2 separate regions of the Homo sapiens genome follow, and region 2 is linked to region 1. A link means that fine-mapping ties the variant in region 1 to the expression of a gene that starts in the linked region. Tissue or cell type: whole blood. Region 1 holds a variant in brackets; the other region holds the start of a gene. All regions are shown on one strand. Distances are between the middles of the regions.

Region 1 (8,000 bases):
TTTGCGCTTTAGTGATATGCCGTGTTTGCTTTGCATGCCCCTTGGCTTTTCAGAAGAAAACTGCGTTTGCAGATGCACTTGGAGTACAACGTTCTTTTTCCTATGAGTGTATTTATGGTGAAGGCTCCATTGGAGGAGATATGCTCATGCATTTCTCTGTGTGTTGTGGGGGATAAAAGTAGTCACTGATTCTTGCAAACCTAGAAGATGCCCAAAAGGTAATACATGTGAAAATATGTGGCAACTGCCATAAATCGCCATGTATTATGTGTGGCAAAGTGCTGTGTGTTTTGTTTATGGAGAAAATTAGTCTTCCCCATTTTCCCAAGAGGTAACACTTGAATATACATCAGAAATTTTATTTGAAAATGGTACCTTCCTTCTATTGTTTTGAGACTATATCATAGGAACTTAGGTATATAATTTTCTCAATTAGAACCTCCAGGTTTTGTCATAGCCCCTTTGTGTCATTACAGTGTCTGATTCCACTATATTTAAACCAGGAAGAGGCCGGCCACGTGGCCACGCTGGTGCTTCCCAAGCACAGGGTCTCACAAGGGCGTGAACACTTGGTTTGGAGACACGCTTTTCTTCCTGATAGAAACGCTATCACACCATTCTCTAGTCTTCTGCGGTGTTTCCTCCACCTAAACGCATCCAGTTTCTGTTGGTTTTTAGTTTATTTATATTTTCTGAGACAGGGTCTTGCTCTGTCACCCAGGCTGGCATGCAGTGGTGTGATCCCAGCTCACTGCAGCCTGGACCTCCCTGGCTCAGGCGATCCTCCCACCTCAGTCCCCCAAGTAGCTGGGACCTCAGGCGCGCACCAGCATGCCTGGCTAACTTTCTTTTCTTTGTTGCAGGGATGGGGTCTTGTTATGTTGCCCCGGTGTGACTCTGTTTTATGTTAAGTGTACGGTGGGTTTTTACGGAGAACCTCTGTATTTGGGTTGGGTGCATGGCATCCTGGTCAGGGAGCTGCCCTCAGGCTTCCTTTCTGCCCAGCAGGGTCACGAGTGGTGTCTCCACCTGGGCTGGTGTGGGTGCTGGCCGGTAGGGCTTAGCCCTGGGCTGCAGACTGGTGCCAGTCCACGGTCTGTTAGGAACCGGGTTTTTGTAGCAGGGGGTGGGTGGCCGGTGAGTGAGCATGACTGCCTGAGCTCCGCCTCCTCTTGGATCAGTGGCAGCATTAGATTCTCATAGACACTGGAATCCTATTGTAAACTGTGTTCTCATAGACGTTGGAACCCTATTGTAAACTGTGCGTGAGGGATCTCGGAGGTGCTCCTTATGAGGATCCAATGCCTGACCTGAGGTGGAACGGTTTCATTCCAAAACCACCCCCCAGAAAAATTGTCGTCCACGTAAACCCATCGCTGGTGCCAAAAAGGCTGGGGACAGCTGGCCTAACATGTGCTAAGATGTCAGTAGATTTTTGGACTCGGACCTCAGTTGGAGAGGATTAGATTTTGAAAGGTGGGGGATTGAAGGCTTCTCAAGGACAAGTTTTCATCTCCAGTAGGGCCTGGGCAGAACCGGGTAGAACTGACCCAGAACCTGACAACCAGCCAGCCCCGGCTCACTGCCTGCATCCTGTGTGTGCAGCCTTGCTGTTTGATTCTCTCGTGGTGGTGGGTTCCATCCATGGCCTCAGAGGGTAATGGAACCCATTACTTCAAGGCTGACCTTATTTAACTTTACCAAAAATACATTAAAATCATTTAGTATAAATCTTCCAGATACTTGTATCTTTTCTTTTTCTAGAGGCTTTTAAGTATTGCAACTTAAAAATCTTCAAATATAACTTTAAAAAAAACCTCTAAGTACATTTTTGATTAGCACCTTTGACAGCTTAACATGTTAAGTAAATTCCCTTGACTTTTGTATTCCTAGAAACTCATATTTGCAGAAGACTGCCTGTATTTTGTCAACAGTGGCCACTGTTTGACCATCATACTTGCCATCTCTCATTTAGAAAGTTGGGTGTGGATGTATTAACTTTTTAGACATACAAACACATGGGCTGTTTTTGTTGTTTTTTCCCCAGCTGAATTCAAGAAAGGGAAACAAGTAGACTAGAGTAAGTATCAGAAAGCGTCTAAGTGGCCAGGTGGGGGATGTCCACTTTGTGGTGGGGAATCCTACTTTGGTGTTGGATTGCATTCTGCCAGACATCGCTCCTAGAAAAGCTGACCCTGAAGGGCTTGGTGTTGCCCTCACCCTGGGACATTGGTCTCTCTCACCAGAAAATGAATAATCTGCCAGAATACTGTGAGTCAAATTGTCAGAACTCGATTAAATAAGAGGCTTTGTCTCAAACGCCAAAACATGAGGACACACTTCTAATTTTTTAAGGAGTGCTTCATCGTGAGTCAGTCCTGACGTGTACTATGTTAGGAAACCTCTGAACTCCACAGTCAAGCCAGAGCTCTGACAGAAAGTGGTTGCGCCCTTCTCACTGTGTTTTTGTCACTAGCTTTATTCATGAAAATTATTTCCTTAAAACCCTCTTTGTATGACTTCTATTACAGTTTGGAAAAAAAAATTATGTGGAACTGGAAGCCTTTCTGCAGCGTTAATATTCATGGCCTGTTCTGGGTCTCGGTATATGTGTACTATACAAATGTGTACTTGTATGTGGTGTATGCGTACTATGTATTGCCATTGTACATGTATTTACAATGTATAGGTATGTACACTACATGTGTCCTACATGTGTGCATGCTATGGGCATGCATGTACATGTGTACATATGTGCATAACTATGGGCACTATTATATCCACACTATTTGGACATGTATCTGTACTGCATATGTGTACATACATGCATGTATTTAACGCCATATATGTACCTGTGTACATACACCATATGGGTATTTGCACATTTGTGTACTTATATATATACATGTGTGCACACTGTAAGCATGCATGTACACTACGCACACTGAATAAACTTGTGGATATGTGCACACTAATGTACGCATGCTGCATATGTACATACACTATGTACTGCATATGTACATACTTTACACATGTATATGTTAGTGTACTGACATATATACATTATATATATGTGCATATGTATACACTACGCATGTGTAGGCATGCTGTAGTGCACTGTACATCGGATATGTGTACACTATATGCATGTATATAGATGTTATACCTATGTACATACAAATGTGCATGTGTATGCTATATGCATGTACATACAGGTTATAGTATACCTGTGTACACTGGATAGAGATGCGTGTACATGCTATTCATGTACATACATGTTATAGTGTACCTGTATATGTACATTGGCTATGGCTGTGCTTTATTCATGTACATACATGTTATAGTGTACCTATATGTACATTGTATGCATATAGATTGTGTGCTAGATGCATGTACATGTGTTATAGTGTACATATGCATGTACACTGTACAGATGTGTGTACATGCTATGCATGTACACATTATAGTGTACCTATGTACATATGCTATATGGATATGGATGTGTATGCTCTGCATGTACATACATTATAGTGTACCTATGTATGCTGTATTGATATGGATGTGTGTACACTATGTGTACATACATGTTATACTGCACTTACGTACATACACTATGGATCTGGATGTTTGCTCTATGCATGTACATGTTACAGTGCACATGTTTGTACACTATTTGGATGTGTATGCTCTATGCATGTACGCATGTGTTATAGTGTACCTATGTATGTACACTTTATGGATCTGGATGTGTGTATGCTCTCTGCATGTACACACATAGTGCACTTATGTTTGTACACTGGATCTGTATGTGTGTACGCTCTATGCATGTACACATGTGTTATAGTGTACCTATGTACATA[C/T]GCTATATGGATCTGGATGTGTGTACACTGTACACACATAGTGAACTTGTTTGTACACTACATTTGGGTGTGTGTACACTATGCATGTACACACGTATTATAGTGTACCTATGTGTGTACACTACATGAATCTGGATGTGTGTATGCTGTATGCATGTACACATGTTAGTGTACCTATGTACGTACACTAAATGGATCTGGATGTGTGTATGCTCTATGCATGTACATGTTATAGTGCACTTAGGTTTGTACACTGTATCTGGGTGTATGCTCTACGCATGTACACATGTTAGTGTACCTATGTACCTACACTACATGGATCTGCATGTGTGTATGCTCTATGCACATACACATGTTGTGCACTTATGTTTGTACACTGGGTCTGGATGTATGTACGCTCTACCACATACACGTTATAGTGTACCTACATATGTACACTACATGGATCTGGATGTGTGAATGCTCTATGCACGTACACATGTTACAGTGTGCCTATGTGCACACACTGTGGATCTGGATGTGTGTATGCTCTATGCACGTACATGTGTGTTAGTGTACCTATGTACGTACACTATATGGATCTGGATGTGTGTGCTCTCTATGCATGCACACATGTTATAGTGCACTTATGCTTGTACACTATATGTAGTTGGATGTGTGTACACTATGCATGTACACATGTTACACTGTACCTATGTACATATAGTATGTGGATCTAGATGTGTGTGTGCTCTATGGCAACAGGAATAGGGCCCCTGCAGGGATCCCGGAACACACCATCTCGTTAGCACCGGAGAGTATAGGATGAAAACAGTTGTTCATTACAAGCTAGTGAAATTTGGCAGGTTAGTAGATGCTTTGCAATGATTTAGGAACCAATCACTTCCTTGATGTGTGTGTTCCTGACATCATAAACAGCTCTGTGAGGTGTGTTTCATCCCCAGATGAGAGAAACGAAACAACAGGGACTTGGTGATTTCAGTGAGGTAGAACTAATATAGCAGCTGTCTAGCTTTCCATATCACAACTTTGTCAGCCCTCAGCTCAATAAATGAGAAGTCGCCACTCATCAGGAAACGTGTTCATTTTCTACTGTTCTTTATTCGTGGAGTATTTACTGCCTTGTGTTCTTCATGATGTAGCAAAATCCCTCCTAGTGTTGTGAATATAAACAGTTCATGACAAATGCAGTATCTTCTTTGTTAACGTTGAAAATGATATGTAAGTTCATCTTCAGGTACTGTTTGGAAGGATGAGAAAGAAGATATTTAGGATAAAAGAAGAATAGAGAGCTTTCGAGTAAACAGGGAAAATAAGGACTTTGTGCAAAACATTTCCAAATGTGGAATTTGAGAATAATCTCAAATCTAAGATTGTAGTTATTTGGATTTTTAAAATTAGTACTTAGTTTTCCACACCTTTGGGAATTTCACCCTTGATGGAGGATTGCAAGAATAATCTGATTTTTCAGAACAGAAGGACAGTCTGTCTCAAAGGTAAATTCCAGGTTCTACCATGGAGAAATAGAAATTGCTCCCAACTTTCCAAAAGGTTCTTAAGTTCTTTCTTCTTTTGTGGTTAAAAAAAAAAAAACACAAAAAAACAAAAGAAACAAAACAAAACATCTCTGGGTTTAGTCTCAGCCAAGTTCCTCTTACTAGGTTGCCTTACATTTCTCCCAGGTGTTCAGAGTCTTCATCATTACTAGTTATTTAGCTTGTTAAAAGCAAAACCTTGTATTAGTTAGATCTGAGCACCTTGAAGGCAGGGCTTTGTTTTATACTTTAAATAAGCAGCAGGCTGATGGCAGGGCTGGGGCCCTTCATCCCATCATGCGTTCCTCTGAGCATTCAGAGTTCTCACTGCGTGCTGAGTGTGGTGTTGGCTCTTGAAGGTTTAAATAGGAATACGAGGCTCTGCGACTCGCGAAGCTCTTACCACCTTCATAGAGAGCTTGGTGACGGCTTAGCATGAGAAAGTACACACAACAGGTGTGCAAACTGTTACGGCCACATAGAAAGGGTACTGACTTAAACGTGACTAATTTCTCATGCTTATTTTTGCCTTTATTTCTAGTTACAGTACCGATACTTCTTCTTCCTCTAAATTTTTGCTAATCGCTAGTGAATTAGTGATAAACTGTATTTACATGTTCTCTAAATCCAGTGACTTAACTGGAGGTCATTCTTCTTGTACCATGTGTCAGTGCTATGTCAGGATGGCTCAGTTTTACCTTGTCAAAGGATTAATTGCAGTAGGATGCAGCCATACTGGAACTTACTCATTTATGGAATATCTGCGCTTTATTTTTTGTTGTTAGTCACACTTGAGGTGTGTTCAAATGTAAACATGCTGAGCAGTGTTAGAAAGATATACAAGATTGTAACGAAGTAAGAAAAAACTGGATCAACTACCAGCTAATGAATTTTATATTTTAAGTAAATGGAATGTGGACCTTGGCAATTAGTTTTCATCTTGCCCTCTTATTTTTTTTTTTATTAGACAGAATCTTGCTCTGTCACCCAGGCTGGAAGGGTGGAGCACAACAGTACGATCTTGGTTCACTACAACCTCCTCCACCTCCCAGGTTCAAGAGATTCTTATGCTTCAGCTTCCCAAGTAGCTGGGGTTACAGGCGCGTGCCACCATGCCTGGCTAATTTTTTATTTTTAGTCGAGATGGGGTTTTGCCATGTTGGCCAGGCTGGTCTCCAACTCCTGATCTCAAGTGATCACCCACCTCACCTTCCTAAAGTGCTGGGATTATAGGTCTGAGCCACCATCCCTGGCCTGATCTTCTGTTTTAATATTGGTTATTCAGTCTCAATGATAGCACCTGGTTGTATTAAATTGGAGTAGAAAGCACAATTGAAATGAATGTGGTTGTGTATGTACATGCTAATTTAGCGCTCATGGCAGCACTGTGAGGTGGGCATTGTTTCTGAAGGAATGCCGGATGGGCAAGTCAGGGCTTAGATACGGGACTTGTGGGCAGTTACTGCTGTCCCATGGCTGAGACCAGGCCTGTCTGACTCCTGTACCCTGAACGCTTCTTAACATTGCCTTTCAACACACGTATGAGTAATTGTCAAGAGTCAGTGAGTGCTCGAGTGTGATGTGGTCTGTGGCGTTTGCCTCGCAGTGTTGCTTTGGCTTGGGATAACTGGGCGACAGCTCCCTTCCTTCTGCAGCTGCCTGGGAGTCCCAGGAGAACCCCACTGATACCATTTATAAATGCTGGACATGTGACATTCTGCTTGGTGCCAGCACATCTGGAATCCGACAGCGTAGTTAGATTCTTGGTCAGCAAACCCGTACAGGAGCGTGTGAACTCTGCATTTGCTTCTCCCGGACAAAGGTGAGTTCCTGGTCACTGTGCTGGATGGCAACAGGTGTGGCCTCAGGAGCAGGACAGAGACTGGCACCCACGTGCAGGAGTAGCATCTGCAAGGAGGTGGGGGATGTGACAGACACAAAACCACTGAAATCCTGAAAGTGCGAGCTCAGCTGTTACCATGGAGGAGAGGCGCAGGTAAGACCAGATTGTTTCTCATTGTTGCACGTTTCTGAAAATGACCCTAAATTGACTCTTCTTTGGCTCCTTGCGCTTCCTAGTTGGGTGGGAGGAAACTGTGCCCCTGGCTCTGGCCCTGCTTGCGGCGAGATGGAGGCTGCTGTAGCTTGCCCTGCCCTCCCTATGACTTCCTCTGTGCTGTTCTCCTCCAGGAACAGTTCTGCTGAGCAAGCTTGGACTCTGCTCCCTTCTGCTCTTGGATGTCATGTCTGGAAGGCTTGTGTTCTTTTCTGGGTTTTGATGATGCTGAGCTATGTTTTTGCAAGGATCACACGTGCCCATAGCAGGGAGAAGCCCCTTTGCGACTTCAACATCTTGACACTCTCAGCAGAGCTCGCTGTCGAAGTTGAGAGACTTTTGCGTTTGTTTTGGCAGAAGCTGAGTTTCAGTCCTAGGACGGCCTCAGCACACTTGATCCCAGCTCCTTTCTCTCACTGCTCCCCTCGTGTATGGCAGAAATCATATGCCCTGAAGTTTACCAGTCCCTTCATTTGAAAACTTCAGTTAATGTATATGATCCTCAAATGAGAATTTTACTTTTTATAAAAGCAATCACAAAGACTGGAT
Region 2 (8,000 bases), 110 kb before region 1:
CTGAGATGCATTTCTGCAGGGGAGCCACTCCCTGAGAGCTTTGTGTTTCCTTCCTGTTAGCGATCTCATGAATAAATAAACTCTCTGCCTGGCACCGATACCTCCAGCCTGCTCTGATTCAACACATTCCTTTGCTACTCTTTCCCACCCCAGTCAGATTTCCTGAAATCTCGAGCCCATTACACGTAAGTAATTAATTTTTCACTCATTAGAATTGGCTTGGAATTCAGTGAGACAGAAAAAAATAGGTGAGGTCCTGGAAGTTAGGGTAAATAATGGTGACGAATTACCCGTCAGCAGACAGTAAAGCAAGACCTAGAAACGGGTCCTCAAATACTAGCTGGCATGGTAATTAATTAATTGTTTAATTAGATACATGTAGCTGTCGCTCTGTGGAGCTCACAACACTGTTTTCGAGACTTGTCTAGGCAAAACTGTGGAGTAGCTCAAAAACGTGACTTTAATCCCTGATGGAAATTTCGGGGGTTTGGCAGAGCTTTTGAAGCCAACAGCCCTGGGAGTCTATTTGATTCATTCTAATAAACATCTATTGGGCACCTTCATTCCTGCCTGGGCAGACATTTGAACCAGGTTTTTACACTTAGGAACACGTAAGATGGCAAGGTGTTCACCAACCACACGTTCCGCAAGGCTGCTCACAGGTGGAGCAGAATGAGACCGAGGAAGGGGCTGCTCCTCTCCGCTCCTGTGCTGGTCTGCACTTCCAGACAGAGGCACTATGCTGTTTGTGGTGTCAGTCAACACAATGGGACAATTATAGATAAGCCAGCCACCAGACAAAACACACACATAAATGACCAATCCCAGGGAGAGCAGGTGGATAAAGAGGTGTGTAATTCCACAGGTGGGAGAGAATCTTTCTAACCAGGAGATTTGGGAAGGCTGCATGGAAGAAGTGGCGTTTGAACTTGGACTGGACTGGGTGAAATTCCGTGTGCGGCTATGACTCAGGTTGTGGGGAAGGGGAGACGACAGGAGGGAGCACATTAGAAAAACAGACACCACAGGTGGGGACTCTCCATGGACAGCTGGGAATTCTGCAGCTGAACCTCGGAGCTTGAAAGAGACGGGAGGAACAGAAAGCAGGAGAAATGTTTAGTGCAGGGCTCGTGAGACCATTGGTGTCAATTAAGGATTTCTTCAGTTTGCAGGCATAGAATCATGGGTTGTACAGCAAGGGGCCTGTGGTCTGTGCTAAGAGGGACTTTTTAGAAGAGTGATCTGACAGCCGTGGTGGGAAGACTGGAAGGAGGCTCTGAAGGCCTGACATGGGCCATAGCCAGAGGCCTCGACAGGAGCAGGTGGCGCACAAGAGAAATGCTGTGGGTAGAAGTTCTTGAGGGGACTCAAAGTGAAAGGGAGGCTGCTCTCAGAAATAATGTACATGGGGGAAAGTATTGGTAGGTAGGATGAGTTTGATTGTGGACAGCATGAATTTCAAGGAGATGGTAGGAGTTCCAGATAAAGATGATATCTATCAGGCTCCTGGAAATGGCAGTCTAAGACCGAGAGCCCACACTCACACGTGTAATGTGTAGGTGCCCAAAGACCTGCTGAAAGGAACCATCAGCTCAAAATCTGAGTTTGCAATTGATGTGTTTAATGCAAATTACAAGTTTTCTTTGCAACCAACATCAGTCATAGGATCATATGCAAATGATTAAGGCCCATCAAAAAGAATATATATATATATATATATATATATATATATGTATTTTTTTTTTTGAGACTGAATCTCGCTCTGTCACCCAGGCTGGAGTGCAGTGGTGCGATCTCGGTTCACTGTAACCTCCACCTCCCGGGTTCAAGTGATCCTCCTGCCTCAGCCTCCTGAGTAGCTGGGACTACAGGTGTGTGCCACCATGCCCAGCTAATTTTTTGTAGTTTTTAGTAGAGATGGGGTTTCACCATATTGACTAGGCTGGTCTTGAACTCCTGACCTCATGATCCACCTGCCTTGGCCTCCCAAAGTGTTGGGATTACAGGTGTGAGCCACCGTGCCTGGCCCGCGAATATATATTTTTTATTCCGACATTATACCGCCCTAAATGGACTTGACACCATTTATTGCTTGGAATGCACAGTGCATCTTTGCTGTAATGAAATGAACTCAGGGCTTTGCTTTGGAGACTGGGGTTTGAATCCTGGTTCTGCTCCCCTTTCTGTCTCTAAGGACTTTTATCTGTGACGTGTAGGGGCTGTGTGGGATCTTCCCCACGGCCCCTGCATTGCTGGTCGGTCTCTTTATCATGCAAAGGGGAGAGATGATGGTGGGGCCACATGCTTGTGCCACCCGTATCTGTTGCATTGAACGCAGTCTGGAGCGAAGGACGAACCCACGGCGCACACCAGGCGGAGGCACACGGCTCGGCGCAGGAAGCACACGGGTTTGGGGTTCCTGTTTCCCAGCTCATCGTCGAATGTCATTCTCACAATTCCCCACTGAAAGGACCGATCCTTACAGGAAATGCACACACCTCTGGCGGTTGCCACCACTGCTAGATCCATGGGAAGGGCAAAGGTGGGTGAGGCATGGGCTCTGTCCTCCAGGCGCTTACACTCACAAAGAATACAGAGAAGATAAAAAAGGTCAAACGTGATGAGGGCGGGAAGTGGCCGGTGCAGGAAGAGAAAGGAGAGAGATTGTTCTGGACCTGGGGTCAGGGATGGCTGTGGGTGGCAGGGGCAGAGAAGGGGCAGGCTCTCCGGGGTGGAGGCCGGGAGCAGAGGTGCTGCGGGTCAGCCGCGTTGTTTGCAGGAGCCGGAGTGTGGAGGCCGCAAGGCTGCCGTGCAGGTGGGTCCCGGCTGGTGGGGGCTCCGGTCGAAGCGGGGTGGGGGGGTGGTGGGGGGTAGGGGTAGGGGGGTGAGGTGGGGGACCTGTGTTCCTGCGGCCCACTCTGAAAGGGGAGTGAGTGCAGCTGGGCCTCCGGGAGCCAGCGCTGGCCAATGTCCCGTGGAGGACGGGGAGGCGAGGAGGTCTTTAGGAAGCTCTGGGCCTAAGGGAGGGGCCGGGCTGGGAAGAGGGGGTACAAGGATGAAAAGGAGGCCAGGTCGTCGGGGCTTTGTGCAACAGACTGGGGAGGATGTGTGGAGACAGAGGAAGGTGATGATGAAGACAACGGGGGCGGTTCTGAGAAGCAGAACTTCCAGTGACTAAGAGTCACTGGAAGCAGCTGGCTTCATTTAGGGTTTGTGGCGTTTGGGGTGTCTAGGGGCTTCCAGGGAAGTTTGCTCAGTGGACGGTTGGAGATGCGAGGGCCTCCCCAGATGGTCAGGACTAGAGGCACAGACGGGGCTTCAGCCTCGCCGAGGTGGCACTGAGGCTGGGAGCTGATGGCCCCACAAGGAGAAGGACGGTGGGAACCCTGGGGCCTGCAGCCTGTTCCGGGAGGGCTGGAGCCAGGCTTTTCGGGCCCACCTGGCATTTGGAGATTAGGTGACCCAACCTTGTCTTCCCATCCCCTTTTCACAGATGGGGACACTGACCCTCCAGGCAAAGGCTCAGAGTCGCTCAAGGTCATCTGCTGGTCGTTGCATTCGAAACTTCCAGCCTAGCGCTCCGTCTCCGCCTCTTAAAATGTTCATTAACAAAAAACCAGCCCTCCAAGACCCGGGGCACTGCGAGTTTTCGCGCAGACGTCAAGCTGCGGCTCCAGGACGTGATTTTCGCAGGGAGCCGGGTGGACCAGGCTCTGGGGCCGGGCCCGCAGGCTCCGCTGGACGCGCAGAGCCCAGGACAGACAAGACCGCCCCGCCCCGCCCCGCCCCGCGGGCCCCGAGCCCCCAACCCGCCCCCGAGCGCGCCCCCGGGAGCGCGCGCTTCGCCGACGCGGCCGCGCGCCCCCCCGCGCGCTCCCGCTCCTGCGCGTCCTCGCGCCCCGCGCGCGCGCGCCCTGCCCCCGCGGCCCCGTGACGCGCGCGCGCAGAGACGCTCCCGCCGGGCCGGGGCCGAGAGCAGCAGGGCCGGGTCCGGGTCCGCAGCGCCTGCGGGGAGGGGCCGAGCGCGCGCGGGGCGGGCCGGGGACCGTGGGGCGCGGGGGCGCGCGAGGCGGCCGTGGCGGGGCCGCGCTGAGGAGGCGCCGAGGGGAGGGAGGTCCCTGCGCGCCCGCCGCCCGCCTCCCGCGCCCGCGCCGCCGCCTCCTCCTCGGTGCGGTTCCGCCGGGCGCGAGGAGCCGCCGAGACCTCCGCCTGCGAACAAAGAGGAGGCCGTGCGGGGCGCGGCGCCCGCGGAGCATGGCGGACCGCAGCCTGGAGGGCATGGCGCTGCCCCTGGAGGTGCGGGCGCGCCTGGCCGAGCTGGAGCTGGAGCTGTCGGAAGGTAACCGGGCCCCCGCCCCGGGCCGGGCCGCGCTGTCACCGGGGAGGGCCGCGCGCGGAGGGCTGGGGGCGCGGGGCCTGCGGCGGGGCGGGGGCCGGGCCCGGAGGGGGAGGTGCGACCCCAGCCCGGAGCGTGCGCGTCCCCCGGACCCCCAGACCCCGCGCCCTAGGGACGTTTGTGAGGCCGCGATCCCCCGCGCTCTGGGGACGTTTGTGGGGCCGCGATTCCCCGCGCCCTGGGGGTGTCTGTGGGGCCTGGGATCCCCTCGCGCTCTGGGGGTGTTTGTGGGGCCGCGATCCCCCGCGCCCTGGGATGTTTGTGGGGCCGCGATCCCCCCGCGCCCTGGGGGTGTCTGTGGGGCCTGGGCGCCGCGCGGGGACGCAGGATGCAGCGGGCCCGGCGGGATCGGCCTTCCCGTGCGCTCTGCGCTGGAGCCGCGGCGTCCTTGGTGCAGCAGCGCGGTGCGCGCCACCTCCTCGCTGGCGGGTTCGGCCTGGAACGCCCGGCCAGATTTCAATGCGAAACTTGTCGTTGGACCCCGGGTTCGATCTCTGGTGGCTCAGGCCGTGCAGCGGTCCTGGCGCGGCCCGGGGGATCCCACCCCCATTGTTCGCGGGCGCTGCGCGGGGAGGGCTGGGCGGAATCGTCAACCTCCCCCCGGGCCGGGCTCCGGCCTTGCCGTCCTGGTCCTCTCGTAGGAGGGTTTGTGGCAGATCAGCCACCGCGGTCTTATGGAGGGTTGTGTACGCCTCTTATTTGCTCTTCATGGCGGAGATCATGTGCTCAACTGTCATAAGTTTCAGATCGGGCTTTGCCAGGTCTTTTCCCCAAAACCACTGAAGTTCCCAAATCTGAAATGTTTGATGTGCATTTAGCCGTCTCTGGGCTCATCCTGGTCAGGCCATTCCTGTAACGTGGGGTGGGGTGGGGGTGGGCCGGCGCGTCTCACATTTATATTTGGAGCAGTTTAGCATGGTGAACTTTTTTTGGGTAACGGTTTTGTGAGGGCCGGCAGCCAGAAAGTAAACTCATTCGTGCCAATTTTCACCGGCAGGGAGGAGCTGGTGTTGACTTTATGTTTTCCTTTTTAACACTTTCAGGGCAAAGAAGGGAGTGAGCAGGGGCCATGGTGTGCAGCCAACTGCCTTTCCAGACTTCTGGGGACGGGAAATGGTACTGTTTTTCAGTTTCAGATGTGGGGTTCCGCGAGGTGTGTCAGTGTCCTGTAACGTGACACAGTTGGCGGGGGGCAGAGTCTTCCAGGCCTGTGGGCTTGGCTGCTGCCCTCCTGAGGAGCTGAGGATGAGGAGGGCATGGCTAGGAGGCGGGAGCTGCCGTGTGCAGGGTTCGGATGTAAACTGGTAAGTAGATTGTGCAGTGCAGACAGCTCGTTTGGTGGGTAAGGAGTGTATCATTTGCAAAAGGCCCACCCTGGTTATCTGATTGTGTCAGCCTTGGGTAGGTTTCCCGGCTTGCGTCTCGGCCCAGGTGCACCCCTGCCTGCAGCACCCTCCGTGTTCGCTGTCTCAGGACAGGGGCTTCTGTGCTGCCTGCATCACACTGATGTGAAGTGTCAGTGCCCCATCCAGGTCAGCAGAGCGTAGCGCCCCTGAGCTCAGCAGGGCGAGCCCCATCTGAGGGTTCCCCCACCCACTGCTAGCCCAGAAGTTGGACCCACATTTGTTCCCAGAGTCTGGGATGTCTATGGGAATGGGTGTCCTGTGTTGGGCATTGTGGCCTTTTGAGGTGACGACACTTGCCTGTCAGTTGCTCTTGGAGGGTGAGTGATACTGTCTTGCTGCCCAGATGATGGCAAAGCCACTTTCGACGAAGGTGTGCTCAGCCGAATTCCCTGTGAACACCTTGCGTCTGTACAGGTTTTTTAAAAAGGGCTTAATGAGTTAGTTTCTTATTGAGAGACCAGGCAGAGAAAGGGGTGTGTGTGTTTGCATGCAGGAAGCCTAATTATATTTTTCCTTCCACATGAATCTTGCTGAGATCTGAGCTACACATTTAAGAAGAAAGGGTGAGAGGGTTGCTCCGTGGCTCTATTCAGCCTCTCTGCACCCTCCGGCCTGTGCTGGCCCCACTGCCTCATCTGTTTGCTGGATGGTCTTTAACTTTGCTGTGAAGTGTGGGTTTGCCCAGGTTGAGTTTATGGGGGTAGTGCTGTAAGGTCATTTGGAATTCTCTGTCTCATAACCACATAAAACAGTTTTACAGGCTTAAATTAGATGAATCAACTTGTTTTCCAGTATTGCTTAATAGAAATCCAAGAATTGAAGGATCAAAATTCTGTGTTTCTTTATGTTATTGGACTTCAAAAATTCCTCAATGTATCTGCTTTCAGAGTGAAAGCTGAAAACAGCTGTTAATGCTGAATTATTTCCCATCTTCAATCAAAATTCAAGTGGAGAGAATTCTTTAAGTTGGTTGTCATCATTTTATTAAAATATCAGAAAATATTATAGAAACATATGTGGAATTTCCAGTGCTCATTTCCTACAGAGGAGGATGGAAAAAGTTCCGTTTTAAGCACATAACATAGACTGAAGGAAAGAGTAGAGCATTCCCCTGAGGTTCCTGTGTGGGCTGCCAGCCTGCGTGGGTTACGCATTGTGTGGGTTTCTAGACCCTGGTCCAGTTCTGCTGTGCCCGCCTGCTGGGCGCCATTACATGCACTGCTGGTGTCCTGCTTTGCAGGGCTGCAGGGGCACTTCCTGCTGCGGGGCCGAGGGCTCCATCCTTCTTCCACTGCCTGTCCCTGTCCCGTGCCCTGTGCCCCCTCACAGGGGAAGGTGAGGCCAGCTCACACCACAGAGCATGCGGCCAGCAAAACACAAGGGCTCTCTGTGGGGAGAAGTGCTGGGCAGCCCTCTTGTGGGAGCTGATGGCCTCGAATCCATGTGGGGATACATTCAGGTTGTGTGGCCAGGGGGGTCATCTCCTCACATACTTGGGTCTGAGTGTGAGCCAGGGAGGAGGCCATGCAGGTAAGGAGGCCACACGGTCAGGAGGCTGTGTGGGTGGGGAGGTTGTGCGGGTGGGGAGGCTGTGTGGGTGCGGAGGCTGTGCAGGTGGGGAGGCCATGAGGGTGCGGAGGCCCCTCGGGTGAGGAGGCTGTGCAGGTGGGGAGACCACGTGGGGGGAAGGCTGTGCTAGTGGAGAGGCCCCGCAGGTGGAGAGGCCGTGAGGGTGCGGAGGCCCTGTGGCTGAGGAGGCCCTGCAGGTGAGGAGGCCATGAGGGTGGGGAGGCCTCCAGGTGATCTGGAGCTCCATTCTGGGGAGGGTCAAGGAATGAGAGGGCTGTGGCGGCTGCTTTCTCATACTCCTTTCCCCAGAATATTTTCTTCTCCCTTCTCTTCCCTACATTTTTGCCCTTTATAATTGGGTATTCTTTTTTGTGGCTTTAAAGGGCCTAAAAATAATTTCATTAATAACTGATACTTTACATGGAATTGCCAAACAAATTGGAGTGGAAGCAGAAAACTTCCCCATAAAGACAAACTCATGTCTTATTTATTTTTTAATTTTTGAGACGGTCTCACTCTGTCTCCCATGCTGGAGTGCAGTGGTATGAGCTCAACTCACTGCAACCTCCGCCTCCTGAGTTCAAGTGGTTCTCATGCCTCAGCTTCTTGAGTAGCTGGGATTACAGGTG

What was found. PIP is the estimated chance that this variant, and not a neighbour inherited with it, causes the effect.
Region 2: it holds the start of DIP2C, and the variant in region 1 is fine-mapped to the expression of DIP2C in whole blood (INTERVAL, PIP above 0.99).

Annotation. Positions count from the first base shown.
Region 1 is chr10:575,277-583,276 of GRCh38, reverse strand. The region is part of intron 1 of DIP2C (disco interacting protein 2 homolog C); the gene reads left to right. Among named protein-coding and RNA genes, the nearest start is that of DIP2C-AS2, 49 kb to the left of the region's middle. The variant C/T (reference allele first, on the strand shown) is at 3,861.
Region 2 is chr10:685,833-693,832 of GRCh38, reverse strand. It overlaps DIP2C (disco interacting protein 2 homolog C), which reads left to right and starts at 4,165. Exons shown (of 37, transcript NM_014974.3): 1 at 4,165-4,339. The coding sequence starts at 4,255. RefSeq lists an enhancer at 2,855-3,790.